Linked DNA regions of Homo sapiens: region 2 is linked to region 1. The links come from fine-mapping of genetic effects on gene expression. A gene starts in region 1. The other region holds a variant in brackets. All regions are shown on one strand. Distances are between the middles of the regions.

Region 1 (4,400 bases):
AAAATATCCTGGGAATTTGAGATTGTGCCTATGCAGCCTCAAACGGATGAATAAAAAGTAATGTAGGCCGGGCACCCGGTGGCTCACACCTATAATCCTAGCACTTTGGGAGGCTGAGGCGGTTGGATCACCTGAGGTCAGAAGCTCAAGGCCAGCCTGGCCAACATGGTGAAGCCCCATCTCTACTAAAAATACAAAAATTAGCCAGGCATAGTGGTGCATGCCTGTAATCCCAGCTACCCAGGAGGCTGAGGCAGGAGAATCGCTCGAACCCGGGAGGCGGAGGTTGCAGTGAGCTGAGATCACGCCACTGCACTCCAGCCTGGGTGACAAGAGCAAAACTCCATCTCAAAAGAAAAAAAAAGTAAAGTAAAGTTTTGTTTTTTTCCCCTTTGGGTGGTGAGATTAAAAGTAATTTAAAAGTTTTAAATACTTTAATATATTTTCACATGTCCTACAATAAATATATAACTTTTTTAATTTGACAAAAAATAATTTTGAGTGGTTACAAAAAGGGACAGGTGTGGCTTGGTAACTAGAAAAACATTCCCAGCCTGGGAAACAATCTAGTGAGAGCTTGGAGGCAGAAGACAGAACTCTGATTACATTCAAGGAGTTTGCCAGATGGCAACAGATAACTGCCAATGTTCGGTTGCACTATAATTATTATACACTCTCTGTCACTTCAGCAAGCGCTCTTTTCACAAGACAAGTGGTGACAGAATGTTGTATTAAGATTACCCGTTGCTAAGCTTATGTTAAAATGAGGAAATGAAATGGAAAGTCTTGTTTTGGTAATGTCTCTGGGGTATGAGGAATGGAGGGAAAGGTTTGACTATGAGCATAACTGCATAGAGAATTTTGTTTGTTTATGCCTTTTGGGAATGCATTATTTTGATTGACCCTAATTGGGAATTCAGAGGGGGAGATTTCCTCTATTATCTATAAAGAAAGGATCTGCTGAGCAAACACAATTGCTAGGGTCATGTTTAAAGTACTTAATTGATCTGCTTTCAAGTCTAATTTAACACTTCAGGGGCTCCAAACATGTGATACATTGGTTACAAACTCATCTTAGTCTAATTTTAGTTAGTGTTCATATTAGAAAGTTATATAATACTTTTCTTTCTTTCAGATATATTCTATAATTCACATTTTTCACTAATTTTACCCAGTTCTCCTTCCACTCCCAATCTATCCAAATAACTGAGTTGAACTGTGTGAGTTTACTGCTCTATTAATTTATTGCCAGAGATATACAAACCATGACTTCCTCGGCTGTTTCAGATGAAACTGTAGATCCACGTGTAAACTTGCAATGCACAGCTTAGCTGGAAAGTTACGTGGAGCAGGTGACGGAGGGGATAGCTTTCACTGCTTGGACTAAAGTCAGTTTTGAAAGAGCTAAAGATGCCTATTGAATTCTGGAGTGTGTGTGTGTGTGTATGGGTGTGCATATGTGTGGGTGTAAGGCAGCAAACTCTTCACATTTCAAATAACTAAAGATATGGGTGGTAAAATGAAGTCACATTTTTACACCTCACAGGCTGACTAGGGAGAGCAGTCAAATGCAGCATCGATTGGTTAAAATTAGTCTATCATTCTTGGTTTATGATGTTTTAAAGACATGTTAAAGTTATTCATGAAGATGTAAAAGACACATTTAAAACCCACATCAATTGCACTAAAAGTCAACTGGAAACAGAAGGTTTTTAAATCCTGGTGGTGGCAAATTGGCAGCCAAAGGAACAAAGTCTTAGTCAACATATTTCCATGTCCCCCGAACACAAATAGCCTCGAACCTTCGGAGGGTGTTCCTTTGAGATGTTTCATCAGTGACATCACAGTGATTGCCAGCTTCCACGGACTACTTTAGGCGCTGCCCAGAGTCCAGGAGTCCAGACAGCCTGGGAGGGGAGAAGGAGTTGGAGCTCAAGTTGGAGACAGCGAGGAGAAACCTGCCATAGCCAGGGTGTGTCTTTGATCCTCTTCAGGTAACTGCAGGATTTTTATGCTTAGCATACGGTGTGTGTGTGTGTACAAGCTGCAAATGAGAAAGGCAGAGGAATGTTTGCATTTCTTAATGAAATAGGCAATGCCCCTTGGATACAGCATGCCTTAAGATATAAAGTGAGTACTATTGCTTTCTGTTTTCCTTTTTTTTTCTCCTAAGGGTATGCATTTTCTCCCTTCCTAGTAAAAAAAAATTTTTTTTCTTTCTTGTATTATGGAAGATGGTCTTTTTTCTATCTTCTCTAAGTCTCCATTCAAAGAAAGCCAATGTCAAACTTCCTGCACAATTTATTCAGAGCTTTTTGGGTTTTAGTTCATCCATTTGCAATCACTGGATCATATGGCATGACCTTGACTTCAGGGAATGTTTAAAATGAAACCCAAAGTGTCTTTATTGGTTAAAAGCAGAAAAATGGAACTTGGCTGATCTGAATTTCTGCCTAACTGGTTCATTCTTCCTAAAGTGTATAAATGTGTGTGAAAGGAATGTTCACACCACACCTTACAGTTAGCATATGTGTTGATTGAATTGAATTCACTAGAAATTCTCACCTTAACTCTTCATGTTTTATTCATCTAAAATCACATAAAACAACAAATATTCAAGGTCACCATTAAAGTGCAAGAAGTAGTAAGAGGTAAATCCCAAGAAAGAAAGAAGTGTGATGGGTAGCCTGCTAATTCAGAAATGACTGAAAAAAAAAAAGTTAAGAGTGCATAAACATACACAGTTTAAACAATAACTGAAAGGCAACACTTCTATAATTATCATCCAGGTCAAGAAACAGATCATTGCCAGCACCCAGAAGCCCATTCTTGATCAACCCCCATTCTGCCCCAAGATGTTGGGATCCTCTTGTCCCTGTTATTCTTTATAATTTGACCATCTATGTCTGCATGCCTAAACAATATGATTAACCTCCCTATTTTTGACATCATATAAATGGAGTCATATTCTCTGTTTCTTTTGTAAATTCTTCTTTCACCCAACAATTATATTTGTGAGATCTACCCATTTTCTGTGTAGCTATAGTTCATATATTTTCTTTGCTTTATGAAATTCAAATGTATAACTATACCACAATTTATCATCCATTCTGCTGTTGATAAACATTTGAGTTGTTTCCAGTTTGGAGTTATTGTGATAATATTGCTGTGAACTCTTTATTTATGTAACCTGGCACGCACGTCCTTGACTGTCTTAAGGTAGAAGTGAAATGCCAGATATTAGAGAATGAACATTTTCAACATTAATTCTAAGAAAGCTAAATTGTTTTCCAAAGTGGTTGAAAATTTATGCTAACTTTGTTTAGCCAGGCCAGTTAATTGCAGTGACAATTCACTTGTGTCATAACTCCTAGGAATTCTAGTAACTAGTTCCAGTCTGCTAATTCTAGCTTTGCCTCTAACTTGTTATCTGTCATTACACAAACATCTTAATCTCCTCTCTCTAAAAGTCAGTTTCTCAGCTGTAATCTTGAGAAAGATAAAAACTGCAGTAACACTTGCCTGAGTTGTTGCGAAGGTAACACAAACAGAGCTGTGGAACAGCTTTCAATAGTATTTTTCTCATTTTCTGAGTATATCCTGTTGGATCACTATCCATGATTCCCATGACTTAACAGCTTAATTTAATAGGCAGATTTGGTGGGACCGTTGTTTTGCTCTCCTTGAATTGTTTTGACCATTATAAGCCAGGCTTCATATTTTCTGCTTATCTCTGCATTTCTTGAGAACTTACCCAAATAGATGGACATTTGGACTATGGTTTTATTTCATTGATAAGTTTATAAGAAAGAGTCTGTCTTCGTTTCTCATTCCTTTGCCTCCAGGCACCTTGGCAAGACTCATTACCGTTCTGTTCTCCTCTGCTCTTTTGTACATTCTCATAAATCCTTTTTCCTTGATCCATTCATTTTATTCTGTTTACTTTCTCCTCCATGCAAATCTTTGTAAAGATTTTCTATTTTTTCCCCTTTTTATTTTCTTGGAGAGACAGGGTCTTGCTGTGTTATCCAGGCTGGTCTTGAACTCCTAGGCTCAAGTGATCCTCCCACTCCAGCCTCCCAAAGGGCTGGGATTAGAGGCATGAGCCACCACGCCCAGCCATTTGTAATGGTTTTCATTGGCAATTTACTATTTCCTTCATGCTGAGGTCTAAAAGATGGATAATAATTAAAAGGGAGATGAAATATAAATCTGTCATCATTTGGCTATATATCTACTGGTTGGCACCATCTGATTTGAACTTGTATTTTTTTTTGAGACAGGGTCTCATTATGTTGCCTAAGCTGGTCTTAAACTCCTAGGCTCAAGGGATCCTCCCACCTCAGCTTCCCAATTAGCTAGGACTACAGGTACCGACTGCCATGCCTGGCTGAACCTGT
Region 2 (4,400 bases), 32 kb before region 1:
CATTTTCTTTATCTACTCATCTGTTGATGGACACTTAGGTTGCTTCGAAATCTTGGCTACTGTGAACAGTGCTGCAATAAATATGGGAGTGCAGATATCTCTCTGATATACTGATTTCCTGTCTTTTGGGTATAAACCTAGGAGTGGGATTGCTGGATTATATGGTAGCTCTATTTTTAGTTTTTTGAGGAACCTCCAAACTGTTTTTCATAGTGGTTGTGCTCATTTTACATTCCCACCAAGAGTGTATGAGAATTCCCTTTTCTCCTCATCCTTGCCAACATTTGTTATTGTATGGCTTATCTCTTAACTTGGTTTATAGAGTCCTGCTTTTACAGACATTTCACATTTTTAAATAGTCCAAAATGAACACTCTTTTTATTTGTAAAAAGACTGACCTACCATCTGACACCAAATGAAGGCAAGACCAGTCAACTCCAGTCATTCTAGTGATCTCCAGGCTATTGGCAAATAAGGCATTCAGCACAAGTGTTCTTTTAATTGGGACATGCTGTGAATAATTAGCATGGCCAGTCCCCATCAGGTGTCAGAGAGCTCTTCTTGCCTTCTGGAAGGAGTTTGGATGAGGAGTCATCTCCTGCTGGCTCCGCTCCTCATGGTGTGCCCTTGGTAGAGACCTGGCTTCCAGCTCTACCACTAATTCCATTTAAACCCCAGTTTCCTGATATGTAGAAAAGAATAACGCTGCTTCACAGGGCTGTTGGATGCACGCTGGATAGGGGTAAAAATGCTTTGCAAGATAACAGATAAAAGCAAAATACTGTTATTACTAACCTCTGTGGGCTTCATCGTTCATATGTGTAGAATAAGAGGGATGGGACTAGGTATTAACAGCCCCTTTCAGCTCTACAATAGCCTGTGATTCTGTGACTAGGGGTAAAAACAGAACCTCCAAGTAAGATGGGGTAGCAGGTGGCCTCTAGCAGTTATGGGGCTCTTGGTAAGGCCACCTACTGGAAGAAATATTACAAGGCAAATAAGAAAATGCAATATCCCTGCCTTCCTCTCTTCTTCACTTCTCCCATTCTTCCCTGCTTTCCTTTCATCTGTTTCTCCCTTCTGTCTTCCTTTCTTCTATTCTTGGAACACTCCCCCACTTTACTGGCTCAATTCTATTTATCCTTCAGATATTCTTTGTTTTTTTCCTGGGAAGCATCCTCTAGGAGGCTTTTAATGATCATCAAATTTTATGCAGTGGTGTCCTTCCTATGTGCTTCCATGGTGTCCTCATAACCTCCACCATTGCACTTACTCGTATTAATTGTCTGCAATCCTTATAAAATTTAAGCTTGGGGAATAGAGAGGGCTCATTTCTTGTTCGCTGCTGTATCCCCAGAGCCTGTTTCAGTGCTGGGAATAAAGCAGGGTGCTCAAATCCCGTTGGATGAAGGAGTAAATATACAGGAACTATGCTAGGCAGCATGAGTACAGAGATGAATAAGAATTGTCCTTAGCTATGAAGGAATTAAAGGTCTTGAAGGGAGGAGGGACATGCAATCAAGTAACTGCAATACTGTATTATAAGAACAAGCAACAGAAATCCATTTGAAAGTACAGCTTTATATATAGAGAAGTGTTTAGACAGGTCAAAGAAAGCACTCTGAGAAAGAGATGAGCTGGATTTTCAAAAATGAGCAGGAATGATGTGTCAATCTGAGTAAAGTAAGGGACTTGCCAGATAGAAGCAGCTCACTTATTTAATAATTAATTCAAAAAATATTTATTGAGCTTCTACATTGCTCCAGGTACTGTTGTAGGTGCTGAGGGTACAACAGATACAAAGAGAGTCCGCCCTGGTGGAGCCCCTCCTCACCTCCTGCAGAGGTCCTCTTTCTGTAGTGACCCCTGTCATCCTGGGCCTCTGCAGCTCTTCTGAGAATGTGGTATTTAATGCATATGAAGTCCTATAGAGTATCTGACATGCCTCTCTTTGATCCAGGAAAACAGGGTCCTGGCTGTTTTTGTGCTAAGGGAGACGTGAGGGTTTGTTTCTCAATGTTTTGATCAAAGGCACACAGCTGTCACACGAGAACGCCTTGGAAATGTAATCTGACTGCCCCAAAGCACCAACTGGCCTCACC[A/G]TCTGTCTCAGGCCACAGTCTGACTGAGGACTGTCTTTGGCTGAACACCCCTTGTATGGGTCAAATACTAACACTGGCATCCACCAGGGGAAATAACAAAGTAAGAAAAAGTAAAAATGGAATAAAGGCTGAAGGGAGTCTCATAAATCAACCCACACCATTATGCAGAGCTTTTATGGAGAAATCAGTAGAAAGAAATACAGAGTTACATAGAGGTGAAAGATAAATCATTAAAGGGGTCCTTTTATGGCAAAACTGAATTTCCACTTTCAGCAAGTTTTTGGCTGATTCCTATGGAATGATAGAATGGAAATGAACTTCTTTCCTGTGTTCTGCTTACTTATCTAAGTCAACTTGGCATTTTATTTTATTTTTGAGACAGGGTTTCACTCTGTTGCAGAGGCTGTAGTGCAGTGGCATGATCTTGGCTCACTGTAACCTCCACCTCCCAAGATCAAGCAATTCTCATGCCTCAGCCTTTCTAGTAGCTGGGATTACAGGCACCTGCCACCATGCCTGGCTAATTTTTGTATTTTTAGTAGAGATGGGGTTTCACCATGTTGGCCAGGCTGGTCTCAAACTCCTGGCTTCAAGTGATCCACCCACCTCAGCCTCCCAAAGTGCTGGAATTACAGGCGTGAGCCACTGCTACTGGCCAATTTGGCATTTTAAACAAGCCTTCTTCTCCAGGTGAGTGGCTGCAGGGACGAACATAAGATTTATAACTTTAAAGAGAGAAAGAGGATAGAAGGGGAATTGAGAATATATTTTATCATTTAAAAATATTGGATGGGTTGGGCACCGTGGCTCATGCCTGTAATCCCAGCATTTTGGGAGGCCAAGGCAGGTGGATCACCTGAGGTCAGGAGTTTGAGACCAGCCTGGCCAACACGGTGAAACCCTGTGTGTACTAAAAATACAAAAATTAGCCAGGTGTGGTGGCAGGCACCTGTAATCTCAGCTACTTGGGAGGCTGAGGCTGAAGAATCGCTTGAACCCAGGAGGCGGAGGTTGTGGTGACTGGAGATTGTGCCACTGCACTCCAGCCTGGGCGACAAGAGTGAAACTCCAGCTTAAAAAAAAAAAGTGGATGGAGGTGACAAGATGGCCAATAGATACAGTCAAGGAGCATCTCCCAATGAGAGAGACCAAAATATTGAATAAACCAACATCCTTAGGACAGATCTTTGGAGAGAAAACACAGAGTAATAGAGAGGTAAGGCAGACACTGAGACTGAAGAGGGAGGAAGCTGGGAACCCTGCACAGGTTTGCAGAGCACTGGGACTGGTTCCCGGCCCTGAACAGCTCCTAAGGAAGGGGTGAGTGAAGTGATGGCGGGGTAACCCACTCTCACCACAGACCTCTCAGATATTAGCTACAAGAGGTCCCATGACTCCTACAGATGTTTGAATTGTCAAGGGAATCTGCCTGGAGAGTAGGCAGAAACAGTGCTCCAGGCTGTGCAGAGCCTAGAAGGTTTTGCACATGGAGAAGCTGCAGCAAAATGTGGCCACAGGCACCCATCCCACAGGATTCTCTGTCTTCCTCTGAGTAGCTCTAACCTTGGCTGGCTGCTGGGCCAGGAGAGAGTGGGGCCATCTTTCCTGTGGGACTGGGGCATGTCTGTTCTGCATGCTCCTCTATCCACCAGCCCCTCCCAAGGCCCCTGCCTGGCCACTCCTACAAGAGCAGGTACACAGCACGGCCTCCACTGCCCAGGCAGAGTGCTTTCCTCACAGCCTGAGAGCACTCCAGCTCCCCCAGCACAACCAATGCCCAACGCAGAGGATGAAGCTGCAGGCCAGATTCCAATACCCCTGGGTTGCAGCACATAGCTCAGAAGTGGCAGGCTGAGATCTGGCCAGTGATTAAGTGGGAGAGGAACCTGCACACTCAGAACACTGAGAAGAGTAAGAAGCGGGTTCCTGGGCAGGTGCAGGAATGGGGTATGCCTCCCTCAAAAGTGCCAGTCTGGGAAGGGTGAGGCCTGTCTGGCAGGCAAAGCCTCTGCCTGAAGGAGCCCTGTGACCTGGAACACCTAACGAAGGCAATGTTGGCATGGTGCCAGTGTTAGGAGGGACCTCCCCTAAGGCAGGGGAATGGACCTGGTAAAGAAGTCATCTCTCTTCCCTCCCCACCACAGAGCACTGCAATAAACCCACTGAAATACGGAAGAGCTACTCAGCTAAATAAGAGCATATCTGTTGGCCATTACTCTTAAGCGCCGTCTACTGGATGACAGCCCAAGTTACAACACCAAAAATACTCTTCCAATATACATTATCTGTGAAATGCAG

What was found. PIP is the estimated chance that this variant, and not a neighbour inherited with it, causes the effect.
Region 2: its variant is the best candidate, but not a certain one, in a credible set for the expression of SLN in cerebellum (GTEx, PIP 0.58).

The regions. Positions count from the first base shown.
Region 1 is chr11:107,709,557-107,713,956 of GRCh38, reverse strand. SLN (sarcolipin) reads left to right here and starts at 1,901. Exons shown (of 2, transcript NM_003063.3): 1 at 1,901-1,994.
Region 2 is chr11:107,741,068-107,745,467 of GRCh38, reverse strand. No RefSeq gene overlaps it. Among named protein-coding and RNA genes, the nearest start is that of SLN, 31 kb to the right of the region's middle. RefSeq lists enhancers at 3,341-3,841, 4,139-4,268, 3,842-4,342. The variant A/G (reference allele first, on the strand shown) is at 2,103.